Linked DNA regions of Homo sapiens. The protein of the gene in region 1 purifies or fractionates together with the protein of each later gene. This does not show direct contact. Each region holds a gene or a part of one and is shown on either strand. Other genes may lie near its edges.

Region 1 (4,969 bases):
CTTACTAAACTTAAATCTTCAAGCTATCAAACTTTGAGGGATTTATATTAAATATAATTAAATCTAAGTGGCTGTTTAATTCTGTTAAACCCTTGATTAAATTCTGAAAATTTAATGGTGAATAAAAAGCACACAGTCTCTGTCCTCATACCTTGGTATCCGCCTCAGCTAACCTACAATTCTTTCTTAGCTAGTCTAGACAGGCACATGTACTAACTTGTTTATTGTCTGTATCATCTACCAGAATGTAGGCTCCAGAAGAGCAAGGGGGCTTATCTATTATACTGCCAGCATTAGCCTGGCACACAGGTGGGAGTTCAATAAAAGAATGCCGATTAAGTGAAGTATATAAAAACATACGCTTGGGTCAAGTTTAGAAACTTGTTAAGGTTGGTAATAATACTCAGAGGATAAAGCTTTGAACTGAAATCAGGGTGTCTATCTGCTCTACTTGACTGGGAAAAACTCAAGGCAGAAATTGCATCTTACTCATTCACTACCTAGCAGAATAGCTTCCATTTAATAGAAATGTACTACACGTTTGCTGAACTAATCTGAACAGTCATAGAGGCCATATTAATCAGTGAGGTTGAGGGCCACTGCTTTAATGGATCTTGCCAGTTTGAGAAAACTGCTTCGTCATCCTCTATTAACTTACCCTATATGCATCAGAGTCCCTGCCCCAAATCCAGAGAATAGAATGGGCTACGGGAGAAGACTTGACCGAATCATTGATATCACTCTGATTTGATTGAACATCAAAGTTCACAGACATCATACTGGAGGTTGATGAATCCTCACCAAACTAGAAAATGAAACAAAAAGTTCAATCAAATTGAAAGTGGAAAAGGAGTTGTGATTATAATTTAACTCACACCAAAAAAGCGAGTGAATATTCAAAATTAGTAGAAAATCAGAAAGTAGCTCAGTAATAAAGCAATTGGATCTTTTAAGAACTATGCCCCAACGATATTCTTTCATGGATAATACATAGTTAACAACTTTCAATAACTTTGCCATTGGAGTATGAGAAAAATGGCATAGGTCGTTTTCCTGTCCCTTTGCTTCATTTTTATGATTTAGTCTCTTTAGGTTAATAATTAGCTAATTGAGAAATCTGGTTCATTATTCCCCTTTTCTTCCTACACTAAAATGCTCACCACTCTAAAATTGGTGTGCCGTGTGTGGGTAGAGGCGAGGGAACTTAAGAAAGTATTCTTAAGGGTTCTATAACTATCACTTAAGGATTACAGACTGTTGTGCAATCAATTACAAAGAAAAGTTTTGAGGGTGAAAGGGTAACCTAGATGAGAGAACACAAACATATACAGCCTTCCTTCAAAGCAAGGTGGAACAATGTTGGATATACTTACAAAGATGCTTGTGTATTTCTGAAACCTTGCTAGATAATGAGAATGGGACTGGGGATGGGATGGGGTAGGAAAGACAAAAGGAAAAGGAATGAATATGACGAATTTGTAGCTCTAGGTCTTTGTGAACAGGAATGGATTCTTTCACTATATAGTGGTGATACAATTTTATGAATATAGACTATTGGAAGCTACACTCCTTCAAATGATCGGTCTTGAGACCATCAAAAAGTCCAAAAGGTGTATTGGGTTTCAATCTATTTCATTTCTAAACATCCCCCTTCTTCCCTTTAAAATGCTTGGTTTTAAGATAAAGAGCTATAATCCCAGAGGGTGTGAATCTGGTCTTCTTTATTTTTTCCCTTGGAAACCAAACATGAGATATTGCTGGGAGCTGGTTTACAATACTCATAGGAAGCTTTTGGTCCCTATCACTATTTCCCCTTTAAAATGGCTTCTTAATTTTTGTCTCTTATTTTTTCCCAATGCAGTCTGGATTTTTCCAGATTAAAGAGTTCTAAGTTTTTGTGGTTTGTCCTCCTATAGATGCTCTCCTAATCTCTTAGTTATCTTAAGTAGTTATTGCTGGAAATTTCTGTATCTACGATTAGACATGATGAGTTTTCTCTAAGATAGAATAAATGTTTTATTTCTAATACAGGTTGAGTATCAGTTTTCTGAAATGCTTAATCAGGAGTATTTCAGATTTGAGATTTTTTTGGATTTTGCAATATTTTATTACACTTACCTGTTAAGCATCCCAATCAAAAAATGTGAAATCCAAAATGCTCCAATGATCATTTCTTTTGAGCATCATGTCAGTGCTCAAAAAGTTTCAGAGTTTGAATCTTTTTTTTTTATACTCAGAATTCTGGCTGTACTTGCTGTCTGTACCACTTATTCAACATCTATTATATACTATCTGGTATCATTACATGTGTTAGTTCTTCCCAACTAGATAGATTAGGATTGTATATGTGTATGTGTGTGTGTATACACGTGTGTATATACAGCGACAGAAAGTGAGAGAAAGTACACACCTAGCAGTGGGCTTAATAAAGATTTTCTGTTGATAATGAGCATTTTGTTGGTGGTATTGGTTGAGGCAATATAATTGGACTGATTACTTCAGGAAACAAATAGCATGGTTGCTCTCAAATTTTAAATAGGTCTTACTCTAAAAGGGAAAGTGGGGAGATGAAAGCTTTGAGTTCAATAATAATAATAGCCCAATTCTAGCTCCCATGGTAAAAGAGAAAAGAATCAAATGCATGTGCATATAAATATTTAGATGGTACTTTAAGAAATAGAAAGCATCCATGGAGTTATTGAGTACTCCCTATAAAATCTGACTTCGTAAACATAACAACATAACAGATAATCAAAATCTCTCTCTCGCTCTTTATTTATTTATTTATTTATTTATTTATTTATTTATTTATTTATTTATTTTTTGAGACACAGTCTTGCTCTGTTGCCCAGGCTGGAGTGCAATGGCATGATCTGGGTTCACTACAGCTTTGACCTCCAGAGCTCAGATGATTCTCCCGCCTCAGCCTCCCGAGTAGCTGGGACTACAGGTGCATGCCACCATACCTGGCCAATTTATATATGTTTTTGTAGAGATGGGGTTTCACCATGTTACCCAGGCTGGTCTTGAACTCCTGGGCTCGTGATCCTTCTGCCTCTGCCTCCCTAAGTGCTGAGATTACAGGCGTGAGCCACTGTGCCCAGCCTCAAAATCTTAAAGATCTAAATGACAATCACAAATTTTAGGGATCAAATATACAAAGAATCAAGAGGAAAAACAAAAGTTTTAAAAAATCTTTATAAAGCAAACGTTTATAAGAATTAGACTGGACCAAGAAAAAGACCTGAACATAGTCCACATTTTCAAAGATATCTCCACGATGATAGCGTACAGGCTGGTCCCACTGGCAATGTAAACTATGCTGCTGGTTGACCAGTCGGCATATCTGATGATTTCCTGGAATAAGAAAGGAAATTACACAAATGATGAGCAAGGTCAACAATGCCAATGTGATTTTCTTAGACTAAGTCATTTAGTATCAACCCTGTATCCCTCAGAGCCTAGCAGGCTACTTACGTAGGACGTACTTATATAGAGAAATATTCATTAATGGTTAATCAAATAAATCATTCTAAGAAGTCCCAGTTTTTCCACCTACAAAAACAAAGGGACTCCACTAGATGATTACTGAGGTATCTTTCAGCAATTATAGTCTGTGATTGTAAAATCTAGTGATTACATCGTTTTAAGAGACTTTGGCCATCTTTCTGGAGAGAATTTGCTTTACATACTTCATAATTTTGTTTCAAATGCATATATAAGAGCTCTGGTTACATTTCAATATACTGGGCAGTAAGTAATTCCAAAGACTGAGCATACTCTTTACACTCATAATAGCAAAGAAAACTTGTTAAGGGAATTGTAAAATAAACTATAAATGGTCACAGCTAAGTGCCAAAGGTTAAGAGGCTTTCTTGACCAACATACTTATCAAGGGAGAAGGGTATAATTAAGAGATTCTATTAATTTATTCTCTGTTATTGAGTTGTCAGATCTGCTCCCTTGTCATTAGAAACAAAACATTCTAGATATAACCAAATCATTGTTCTCATGCCAACCCAAGTTCCTATAAACCAGTGGTTCTATTTTTATGGATCACAGATGCTTGAGAGATTTTAATAAAAGCTAGATACCCTCTTCCCAGAAAAATAAAATTGGACACATACACAATTCTACATATAATTTTGGAGAGGATTTCAGAACCCCCTGAAACTAATCCATTGACCCAGGTTAAGAATTCCAGTCTAAAATTTTACTTCTAAAACACTGTTTTTAAGAGAGCAAGAAAAAAAGGAGTATGGATGGGTTGTTTGTAGGGTGGGTCTGGCTTGTATTCACTTAGTGTAAGGCCTTGTTACCCATAGTGCAGAGTTTTTAGACCTGCGGCAACAAGCATCACCTGGGAGCTTATTAGGAAGGCAGACTCTCAGGCCTCAATTCAGACCTACTGAATCATAATCTGCATTTCAACAAGATCTCCAGGAGACTGATATGCATATTAGGGTAGGAAAAAAAACTGATGTTGAACACAGAATGCAAATAACTGTTAAGACTTCTAGGATCTACAAGACTTGTTTTTTATTTCAAAATGTAAATTTGAAAAAAGCAAGGTAGACCAAACCAGCTCCCCAGGCCTCCTGGTATACCCACAGTGATGAATCATGCTTTCGAGATGTAGGGAAGTCATAAACACAACTTCACACTGCTTTAAGGCTACAAGAAAGTTATGATAGTAAAGCATGCTAAAAGTGAATTTCCTAACCTGTCTTCAATTACTTGGAGTCACTACTTACCTAATTGTGCCTCTTTTGCCATCTGAGTCTCATGAATGATATTTCTTAAGATTTGCTCCTCCTGAATCAGTTTATGTTTTTCTAGGATTTCCTGCTGTCTCAGGTAGTGGTCATGCTGCTTTTGATACTCTTTTAACTCATTCAGTGTTCGCTGGAGAGATCTTAACATTTTTTAATACCAGGAAAAAGTTAGAGCTATAAAATCATAAATTTTA
Region 2 (4,371 bases), on another chromosome or scaffold:
GACCAGATTTAAACATTTTTTATTTTTTATTTTTTAGACGGAGTCTCGCTCTGTTGCCCAGACTGGAGTGCAGTGGCGCAATCTCGGTTCACTGCATCCTCCGTCTCCCGGATTCAAGCAATTCTGCCTCAGCCTCCTGAGTAGCTGGGATTACAGTCGTGTGCCACCACACCTGGCTACTTTTTGTATTTTTAGTAGAGATGGGGTTTCACCATGTCGGTCAGGCTGGTCTCCAACTCCTGACGTCATGATCCCCCTGCCTTGTCCTCCCAAAGTGCTGGGATTACAGGTGTGAGCCACTGCGCCTAGCCAAAATTTTTTCATTGTAGTAAACAAATATATAATATAGGCCAGGTACATTGGCTCATGTGTGTAATCCCAGCACTTTGGGAGACCAAGATGGGATGATCACCTGAGCCAGTTTGAGTCAAGCCTGGGCAGTGTGGTGGAGCCCCAGCTCTACTACAAAAAAAAAAAAAAAAAACATTAACCAGGTGTGGAAATGCATGCCTGTAGTCCCAGCTGCTCAGGAACCCGAGGTGGGAAGATCGCTTGAGCCTGGCAAGTCAAGGCTGCAGTGAGCCATGATCACACCATTACACTGCAGCCTGGGCAACAGAATGAGACCCTGCCTCAAACTATATACATATATAAATATATATATGTAAACATAAAATTTACCATCTTAACCATTTATAAGTGTATAGGTCAGGCCCAGTGTGGTGGCTTACACCTGTAATCCCAACACTTTGGGAAGCTGAGGTGAGCGGATTGTTTGAGCCCAGGAGTTTGAGACCAGCCTGGGCAACATGGTGAAACCCTGTATCTTAAAAAAAAAAGGTGTATAGTTAAGTAATGTGAAGTATATTCCCATTGTTGTGAAACAGATTTCCAGAACTTTTTCATCTTGCAAATCTGAAACTACCATTGAACAACTTCCCATTTCTCCCTCCCAGTCCTTGGTAACCATTCTTCTCCTTTCTGTTTTTGTGAGTTTGACTACTTTAGATAACCCCAGTATAGTAATACAGTATTTGTCTTTTTGTGACTGGCTTATTTTACTTAACATAATGTCCTCAAGGATCATCTGTGGTATAGCATGTGATGGAATTTCCTTGGAAAAAAAAATCAGATTTTAAAGTAAGGTGGACCTGAATTGAATCCTAGCAGGGTGACCAAGATTAAGTTATTTAACCTCTCTTAACTTCAGTTTCCTTATTTCTAAAGAGGTGATGATAACATCTATCCCATAAAGTTGTTAGGAGGATTAAGTGAAATAATATGTTTTAAAAGCGTAGCCAGTGTGGCATATAGGAATAGTTGTTTAGTAAATAGTTGCTCTCAGCTAGTAGTTAATTAGACTGGGCTTCCTGAAGAGACTGTGTCTTATTTTTCATTGTATCTGCAGAGCCTGAAACCTTGCCAGCCATTTGATATTCAGGAAATTGCTTAAATTGAAATACTGTGTCCTCAGTCTAATTTCTGTCTGTACTTGCCAAGCAATCTCATGGCTTTAAAGAGTTCCAGAGTCAGATTACCTAGGTTTGAAACCTAGCTCTGGTATTTACTTACTATGTGTCTTTAGGCAAGTTATTTAATCTGTTTATGCCTCAGTTTATTTATTTGTAAAGTAAGTATCATAGGACCTGACCTTCCAAGGTTGTGGTGAGGACCAAGTGAGTTGTACATATAAAGCACTTAAAATAGTGACTGAAACATACTTTCTCAGCTATAAGTACATAGCTTACTGCTATAAAGATTAGCTTGTATTGTTATTAATAACTGCTCTATACGCTGACGGATCCTAAGTTTCTGTTTCCATTCGTGTTTCTCCTTTTAGCTCTGGATGGGTAGGTATATCCAATTGCCTTCTAGCATTTCCACTTTGATGTCTAATGGGCATCTCAAACTTAGTATGTCGAAAGCCAAAATCCTCTCCCTTTTCCATCAGACCTGATCTTCTCCATCTCCCTAAATGGGGCATAAGGGAAGCCTGAGTCATGACTACTGGCCACATAATTTGTAATGGGTCAATTCTACTTGGATTTTAGTTTGCTTTATTTTCTTCCCTTCGTTTTGTTCTGCCCTCTGTCAAGGCAATAAAATATGCTGGGGTGATACTTTGGAGTTTACTGAGCCTTTTCATATTCATCAGCACATTTGATGCTTAATGCAAATCAGATCTTATAAATCCTTTGCTTAAAACTCTCCAGCCTCATCTCATTGCAGTTGATAGAATCAATTCTGGATTCCTTACCATGGGCGTACAAGGCCCCAAATGATCAGTACGAGTTGAAGGAAAGGATAGACTGAGTAAACGCTGGGCTCTAGGATAGTGCAGCTCACATTACAGGTCATGACCCGCCATCCCTGGATGCCCTTCAGTTTGGCAATCTGGTGACAGACTGGGTTGTGGGATGCTGTTATATTTCCCACATGGCAGTCGTTGCTTCCTTTATGATTATTGGCATATCTAAATGCCCCTGAGTGTTCCTTACTTTATATTTTTTCTTTAGATTCACTGACTTTTTTTTTTTTTTTGAGATGGAGTCTCGCTCTGTTGCCCAGGCTGGAGGGCAATGGTGCAATCTCAGCTCACTGCAAGCTCCGCCTCCCAGGTTCATGCCATTCTCCTGCCTCAGCCTCCCGAGTAGCTGGGACTACAGGTGCCCGCCACCACGCCTGGCTAATTTTTTTTTTTTTTTTGTATTTTTAGTAGAGACGGGGTTTCACCGTGTTAGCCAGGATGGTCTCGATCTCCTGACCTCATGATCCGCCCACCTCGGCCTCCCAAGGTGCTGGGATTACAGGTGTGAGCCACTGCGCCTGGCTGACTTCTTTTTTTTGTGAGATGGAGTCTCGTGCTGTTGCCCAGGCTGGAGTGCAGTGCACAGTCTCGGCTCACTGCAACCTCCGCTTCCCGGGTTCAAGCGATTCCCCTGCCTCAGCCTCCTGAGTAGCTGGGACTATAGGCATGTGCCACCATGCCCGGCTACTTTTTGTATTTTTAGTAAAGACAGGGTTTCACCATGCTGGCTAGGCTGGTCTCAAACTCTTGATCTCTTGATCCACCCACCTCAGCCTCCCAAAGTGCTGGGATTACAGATGTGAGTCGCCGTGCCCAGCCAGATTCACTAACTTTTAAAAAAAATTTCATTAGGCACTACTTGTTTTAGCCTCATTCTAACCATTAGTATTTATGAAACCTAGGCATTTAAGTCAAACAAATCTTACCTGGCTTTTCAAAGGTAATTTGATACTGAAAAACTCCTGATTAGGATAAAGTCTTATTCATATATATATACACACACACACACACACACACACACACACACACACACACACACACACACATATATACACACACACACATATATATACACATATATATATACACACACATACACACACACACACACACACACACACACACACACACACACACACATATGCCATTCATTTCAATGGGAAGTTTTCGTATTCACAAGCCCTTAAATTTGCTCCTAATTTTACTGAATCATACCCCATTAAAGGACACAAAAGTATTCAGTGGTTAACATGTATTGTCAGAATAACCCAACAAGGTATTTTATCTTTATTATCCTTTAAGATATCTATTTAGGCTGGGTGCGGTGGCTCACACCTGTAATTCTAGCACTTTGGGAGGCCGAGCTAGACGGATTCTTTAAGCTCAGGAGTTCAAGACCAACCTGGGCAAGATGGGTGAAACTCCATCTTTACTAAAAATACAAAAAATTATCCGGGCGTGGTGGTGCGTGCCTGTAATCCCAGCTACTTGGTGGCAGTGGTGGTGGTGTGGGGGGCTGGGAGGGGGAAGGGGGCAGGGCTGAGGTGGGAGGATCACTTGAGCCCAGGAGACGGAGGTTGCAGTGAGATTGCGCGAGACCCTTGCATTTAGTGTGGTATTTTGAGGCATTAGATGTCTTACATTTAGGATTAAAGAAACAAATAAGATGCACAGTTATCTTCATGGAATTTAGCCTTTAGTTATTTTTAAAAACAATAAAATCAGTGGAAACTGTAAATGTCTAGAAATGTCATATTTGCTAAACAGGTTGACAGTTTAGAGGGTATGATGTAAGAGATTATCACTGCTGTAAACTGTTAAACCACAAGTACTTCAAGAGAAAACCCATGTGATACCTGCCAGTAATTCAACTGGGAAGATGACTGAATGGTGGCACTTTTGTCACAGTGCTGAGCTGTTCACAAGGAAAACAAAATTCTAATGATTTTTTTTTTTTTTTTTAGACAGGGTCTTGCTCTGTTGCCCAGGCTGGAGTGTAGTGGTGAAAAAAAACTACTGAAACCTCCGCCTCCTGGGCTCAAGCAATCCTCCCACCTCAGCCT
Region 3 (5,115 bases), on another chromosome or scaffold:
AGCCTCTCCGCGTGGCTGGGCTGGAGTGTGCAGACGTGGGAGAGCCCGGAATGGGGAGCGCGTGGCCGGTGGAGGCCCGAGGCTGTGCTTCCGTCGCTGGCTCTGAGGCAGAGGTCCAGGCCGGCAGGCTGCCCAGGTGGTCCTGTCTCAGAGCTCTCCGGGGCGCAGAGGCGCGGGAAGCGGGGAAGGGCCGGGCAGCGAGACGGGTGTCCCCAGCAGGAGGTCGGGGACCCGTCGCGCGTTCCGTCGGGGCCGCCTGCGGTGCAGGGGTCAGAGACCAGCCACGCGAGCAAGAGGGAGCCCGGCCAGAACTGCTGAGAGCCCCCAGCGGAGCTGGGACTCAGGGGCTCCTTGCGTTTAGCCACCAAGAGTGGGGGCAGGCTGCGGGGTGCCGGGGAGAAGCCAGATCTCACTCATTTTACACCGACTAATTAGATCCCGCCGCCCACCTGGGACCACGGCATTGTCATGTCCGCTGCACTGACGGGGAAATTGAGGCACGGGGGCGAGTAAGGCGGGAGAGGGAGTCGGCGCCGCCGAGCTGGGGCGAGCCCCGCACCCACCCGTACACTCGGCCTCTGCCCCTGCTCTGTGCGTGGGCTCCTGCTCTGTGCGTGGCCTCGCCGCCGAGCTGGGGTGAGCCCCGCACCCACCCGTACACCCGGCCTCTGCTCCTGCTCTTTGCGTGGCCTCCTGCTCTGTGCGTGGCCTCTGCTCCTGCTGCGTGCACTGCGGCATCTCGGGAAACCGGGCTGGGCTCCTCTGTCCTCTGGAAGCTACTGTAAGTTTTAGATAAATGTTACTACTAGACACGAGGAAAGTGAGTCCATGATTACTGGCATTGAACAAATGGTTGCACCGCGTTCTCCGTGGTAGGTGGAGTGTGTGATTGTGAGAGGGGAATGGACACTGAATCCTTACCTACACAAATGCCTAAACTCGTAAGGCATTACGACACACCCATCTGAAAATCTAATTAAGCGGTAGGAATTCTAATGGTCCGGGATCCAAATGAGACCCAGCCACTTAACAGTTAGCAGCCTTCAGTTTTGTCCTGTTGCCCGTAATTACCCCAAGGTCAGGGAGAAGCACTGAAGCAAAGGCATGAACATCACTTTGAAAAAGAAAGGAGTTAATGGGTGCAGCACACCAACATGGCTCATGTATACATATGTAACAAACCTGCACGTTGTGCACATGTACACTAGAACTTAAAGTATTATATATATATATATATATATATATGAAAGAAACCTGCCTGGGGCACTCCTTCCTTCAGACTCCCCTTGAAAGTATTCCCTCATTTCATTCAAAAGGATTTAACTTTTCTAAACTAAGTGGTGCTGGTAGAATATGCTACCTGATTTACGTGTTGCTGTAATTCTTGAAGCTCTTCCAAGACATCTTGGCCTTCCTCTGTTCCCTCCCCTTCCTGCTATTTTGCAGACATATCCACTGGGGAATTGTATGGCAGGAAGGCTGATTTTATTTAGCTGGCCCTTGATTCTTGGTTTGCACAGTATCTGGGTCCAGCCTGCAGCCCTAGGGTCCAGGTAAGTTCATCAGGAAAGGATTTCTTTACATTCAATTTAAGCCATCTAGGTCCTAAAACAACGCTTATATTATCTGTGGGATAATCCTGCTTAGTTATTTGCAAAATAGTCAGATGTCTATACAGTTTTGGGTAGGAAAGGGGTAAGCCGCTTTCAAAATTCATTCTTGAGGAAGAGGCTAAAGAGGAGATAAAAGCAGATTTTGAAATTCTTCTGCTGGAACTCTGCAATTGGCTGGGAGGAGAGAGAAAAACCATAGAATAAGTCATAAGAATAGTGGGCTTTTTTTCTTTTTTTCAGATGTAGTCTTGCTCTGTCGCCCAGGCTGGAGTGCAGTGTCATGATTTCAGCTCACTGCAACCTCGCCTCCCGGGTTCAAGCAATTATCTGCCTCAGTCTCCCGAGTAGCTGGGATTACAGACATGGGCCACCACACCCTGCTAATTTTTGTATTGTTAGTAGAGATGGGGTTCCACCATCTTGGCCAGGCTGCTCTTGAACTCCTGACCTTATGATCCAACCGCTTTGGCCTCCCAAAGTGCTGGGATTTTTTTTGAGACAGAGTCTCACTCTGTTGTCCAGACTGGAGTGCAGTGGCAGGATCTCAGCTCACTGCAAGCTCCGCCTCCCGGGTTCACACCATTCTTCTGCCTCAGCCTCCTGAGTAGCTGGGACTACAGGAGCCTGCCACCGCGCCTGGCTACTTTTTTTTTTTTTTTTGTATTTTTAGTAGAAACGGGGTTTCACTGTGGTCTCGATCTCCTGACCTCGTGATCCGCCTGCCTCGGCCTCCCAAAGTGCTGGGATTACAGGCATGAGCCACCACGCCCGGCCTATGATGGATCTTTTTAAGAGAGCTTTCTAGAGAAGCTTATAGATTATTTTGCACAAATTTTAATGTGTACTTTTTTTTCCTGATCAGGTTCATCATATTCAGATTGTACACATTTTCATTTTTATGGCTATGCTAATTTACAGTGCAGGAAAAAAATAACTGTCAAGATATGTTGAAGAAGGCTGGGCGCGGTGGCTCACACCTGTAATCCCAGCACTTTGGGAGGCTGAGGCGGGTGGATCATGAGGTCAGGAGATCAAGACCATCCTGGCTAACAAGGTGAAACCCCGTCTCTACTAAAAAACAAAAAATTAGCCAGGCGTGGTGGTGGGCGCCTGTAGTCCCAGCTACGCGGGAGGCTGAGGCAGGAGAATGGCGTGAACCCAGGAGGCAGAGCTTGCAGTGAGCCGAGATCGCGCCACTGCACTCCAGCCTGGGCAACAGAGCGAGGCTCTGTCTCAAAAAAAAAAAAAAAAAAAAAAGATATGTTGAAGAAATGTATAAAGTGTGTAATATAGAGAGTGCATGGAAGACAATATATTCGATGAAGGCAGCCTAGAGCTATTTTGACTCTTAGATCGTCAGATCCGGGAGGGCATTCGTCCTTTCCAGTGCATGCAGGAGGAAGCTGAGGCTCTGAGGTTTGGAAACCCAGGAGATATCACTCAGCTGATTTCTAGCAGGTTTACATTAAATCTTAGTTTTGGAGAGTTAAGAATCTTGAGGAGTGATAACCTTGGCTGTAGAATTAAGGATATGATGTTCTTGGAGAAAATTAATCAGGAAGAGGGCACTGGGTGACCATTTATCAAGAGATTCTTTAGCAAAGGACAGATATAGGTAAAGAATCGGAGAATGAGTCAGAAATAAGTGAACTAAATAAGAACACTATTTTGGGGGGACTAAAAAACATTAACTTCAAAGTTATTTGCAGTCTGTGTCCCTTTGCCCTGACCATGCCAGTATGTCTGGCTCATGCGGTCACAGCATTCTGCAGAATGATGGCCTCTATTCTCTATACATACATATGATATCAATGTATAGAGATCTTGTCTTGATTTGTCCAAGGCAGTGACTGTTGTCGCTTTTTACATATATTACTGGGAGGGTTGTATGCCCAGTGAGTCCCCAGCAGCTGTCACTCTGGCTGACTACAGATGTCTGCAAGCCTCCTCACTTCTGAAGAGCGGCCGCACCTTGGGCAGCGCATGCCTTGAATTAGGATGTGGGCTCAGCTGTGTGTCAAGACCCCAAATAACAGTGGCTTATGCAAGATAGAAGTCTATTTCTGTTTCATATGCTTATGTCAAAGATGTGCTGGCAGGTCTGGTCTGTGGAGTCATCTGAGGCCAGGGGTTTTTCTATCCCCAAATTGTTGCCCTCCTTCAAGGAGTCCCACATGGTTCACCATGCCATGCACACCCCCCCACAGGAAGCGGGAAAGGGCACCCCCTTACCCTTTAAGGCCGGTCATTGCACACAATTACACGTCTCACTTTTGCTCATCCCCATGGCCCGTAATCTAGCTCATGGTCATACCCAGGCTGCAAGGGAGGCTAGGGAGTGCAGTCTATCATGGGCCCCTAGAAGCCCAGCTAAAATTTCTATTACTCTGGATGAAGGTGAGAAGGGGTGTTGGAGATTACTAGCAACTCCACGAAAGCACTGACAAGGATCAGAGTTGATACCCAGTCACCTTCCCAAGTGATGGTCCACACACAGTTGGAACCAGGATAGTATTTCTTGCATGCCTGCATTGATTCATTCAACAAATACTTGACTGAAAATAAGGAAGTAGAAAAATGCAGTCACCATCTTCATAAAGCTCTAACCCAGGTTGGTGCCTACTAAGTGATCATTAGTCTAGGTGTGGTGTACAGAGTAAGTGGGGACTGGGGAGGACAGTAATTCAGATGAGAGAGAGAGTGGATGATTGCAGGGAAAGATGGGAGACAGAAGAGGCTCCTAGCTCTAGTGCCTTCTGGGAAAAGACCAGACCCAGAAATTAAAAGTCAAGAGTGTAACTGTAGTTGAACTAATGAAACTGAGGGTCCAACCCATAGCTTTGTGAGAGGCACAAATGTAATTTTTTATTTTTCAAAATAACATTAATATAATTTCTTCTATATTCCTTGTGCAAATCCTCAACCTTCTACATTAAAGAAGAGGCTAAATAGGAGGTATAAACTTGCTAAAATTTCTTATTAAAAAATAGTGCCAAGCGGCCGTGTGCAGTGACTCACACCTGTAATCCCAGCACTTTGGGAGGCCGAGGTGGGCGAATCACAAGGTCAGGAAATCGAGACCATCCTGGCTAACATGGTGAAACCCCGTCTCTACTAAAATACAAAAAATTACCCGGGCATGGTAGTGGGTGCCTGTAGTCCCAGCTACTCGGGAGGCTGAGGCAGGAGAATGGTGCGAACCCGGGAGGCAGAGCTTGCAGTGAGCCAAGATCGCGCCACTGCACTCCAGCCTGGGCGACAGAGCGAGACTCTATCTCAAAAAAAAAAAAAAAGAAAAAAAAAATAGTGCCAACCTAGGTGGTGACCACGTCTCTAATCCCAGCTATTCAGAAGGCTGAGGCAGGAGGACCACTTAAGCCTAGAAGTTCGAGTCCAGCCTGGGCAACATTCATGAGACTGTATCTCTATAAACAAACAAACAAACAAACAAATAAAACAGAAATAGTGGCACAACTTACTTTGCTACGTATTTGGGAGAACG

Evidence for each region. Proteins that work in one complex are often made in the same cells at the same time.
Region 2: the proteins of TTC17 (region 1) and TRPC4AP purify together in Homo sapiens (co-immunoprecipitation; one large-scale study listed by IntAct). This does not show direct contact.
Region 3: the proteins of TTC17 (region 1) and C1QTNF9 purify together in Homo sapiens (co-immunoprecipitation; one large-scale study listed by IntAct). This does not show direct contact.

What each region holds. Positions count from the first base shown.
Region 1 is NC_000011.10:43,399,834-43,404,802, reverse strand, and holds part of TTC17 (tetratricopeptide repeat protein 17 isoform 1 precursor), read right to left. Parts: intron 4,916-4,969; coding exon 4,755-4,915; intron 3,358-4,754; coding exon 3,245-3,357; intron 806-3,244; coding exon 659-805; intron 1-658. UniProt on the Homo sapiens protein: Plays a role in primary ciliogenesis by modulating actin polymerization.
Region 2 is NC_000020.11:35,085,509-35,089,879, reverse strand, and holds part of TRPC4AP (short transient receptor potential channel 4-associated protein), read left to right. Parts: intron 1-4,371. UniProt on the Homo sapiens protein: Substrate-recognition component of a DCX (DDB1-CUL4-X-box) E3 ubiquitin-protein ligase complex required for cell cycle control.
Region 3 is NC_000013.11:24,308,064-24,313,178, forward strand, and holds the start of C1QTNF9 (complement C1q and tumor necrosis factor-related protein 9A precursor), read left to right. Parts: upstream 1-1,516; 5' UTR 1,517-1,553; intron 1,554-5,115. UniProt on the Homo sapiens protein: Probable adipokine. Activates AMPK, AKT, and p44/42 MAPK signaling pathways.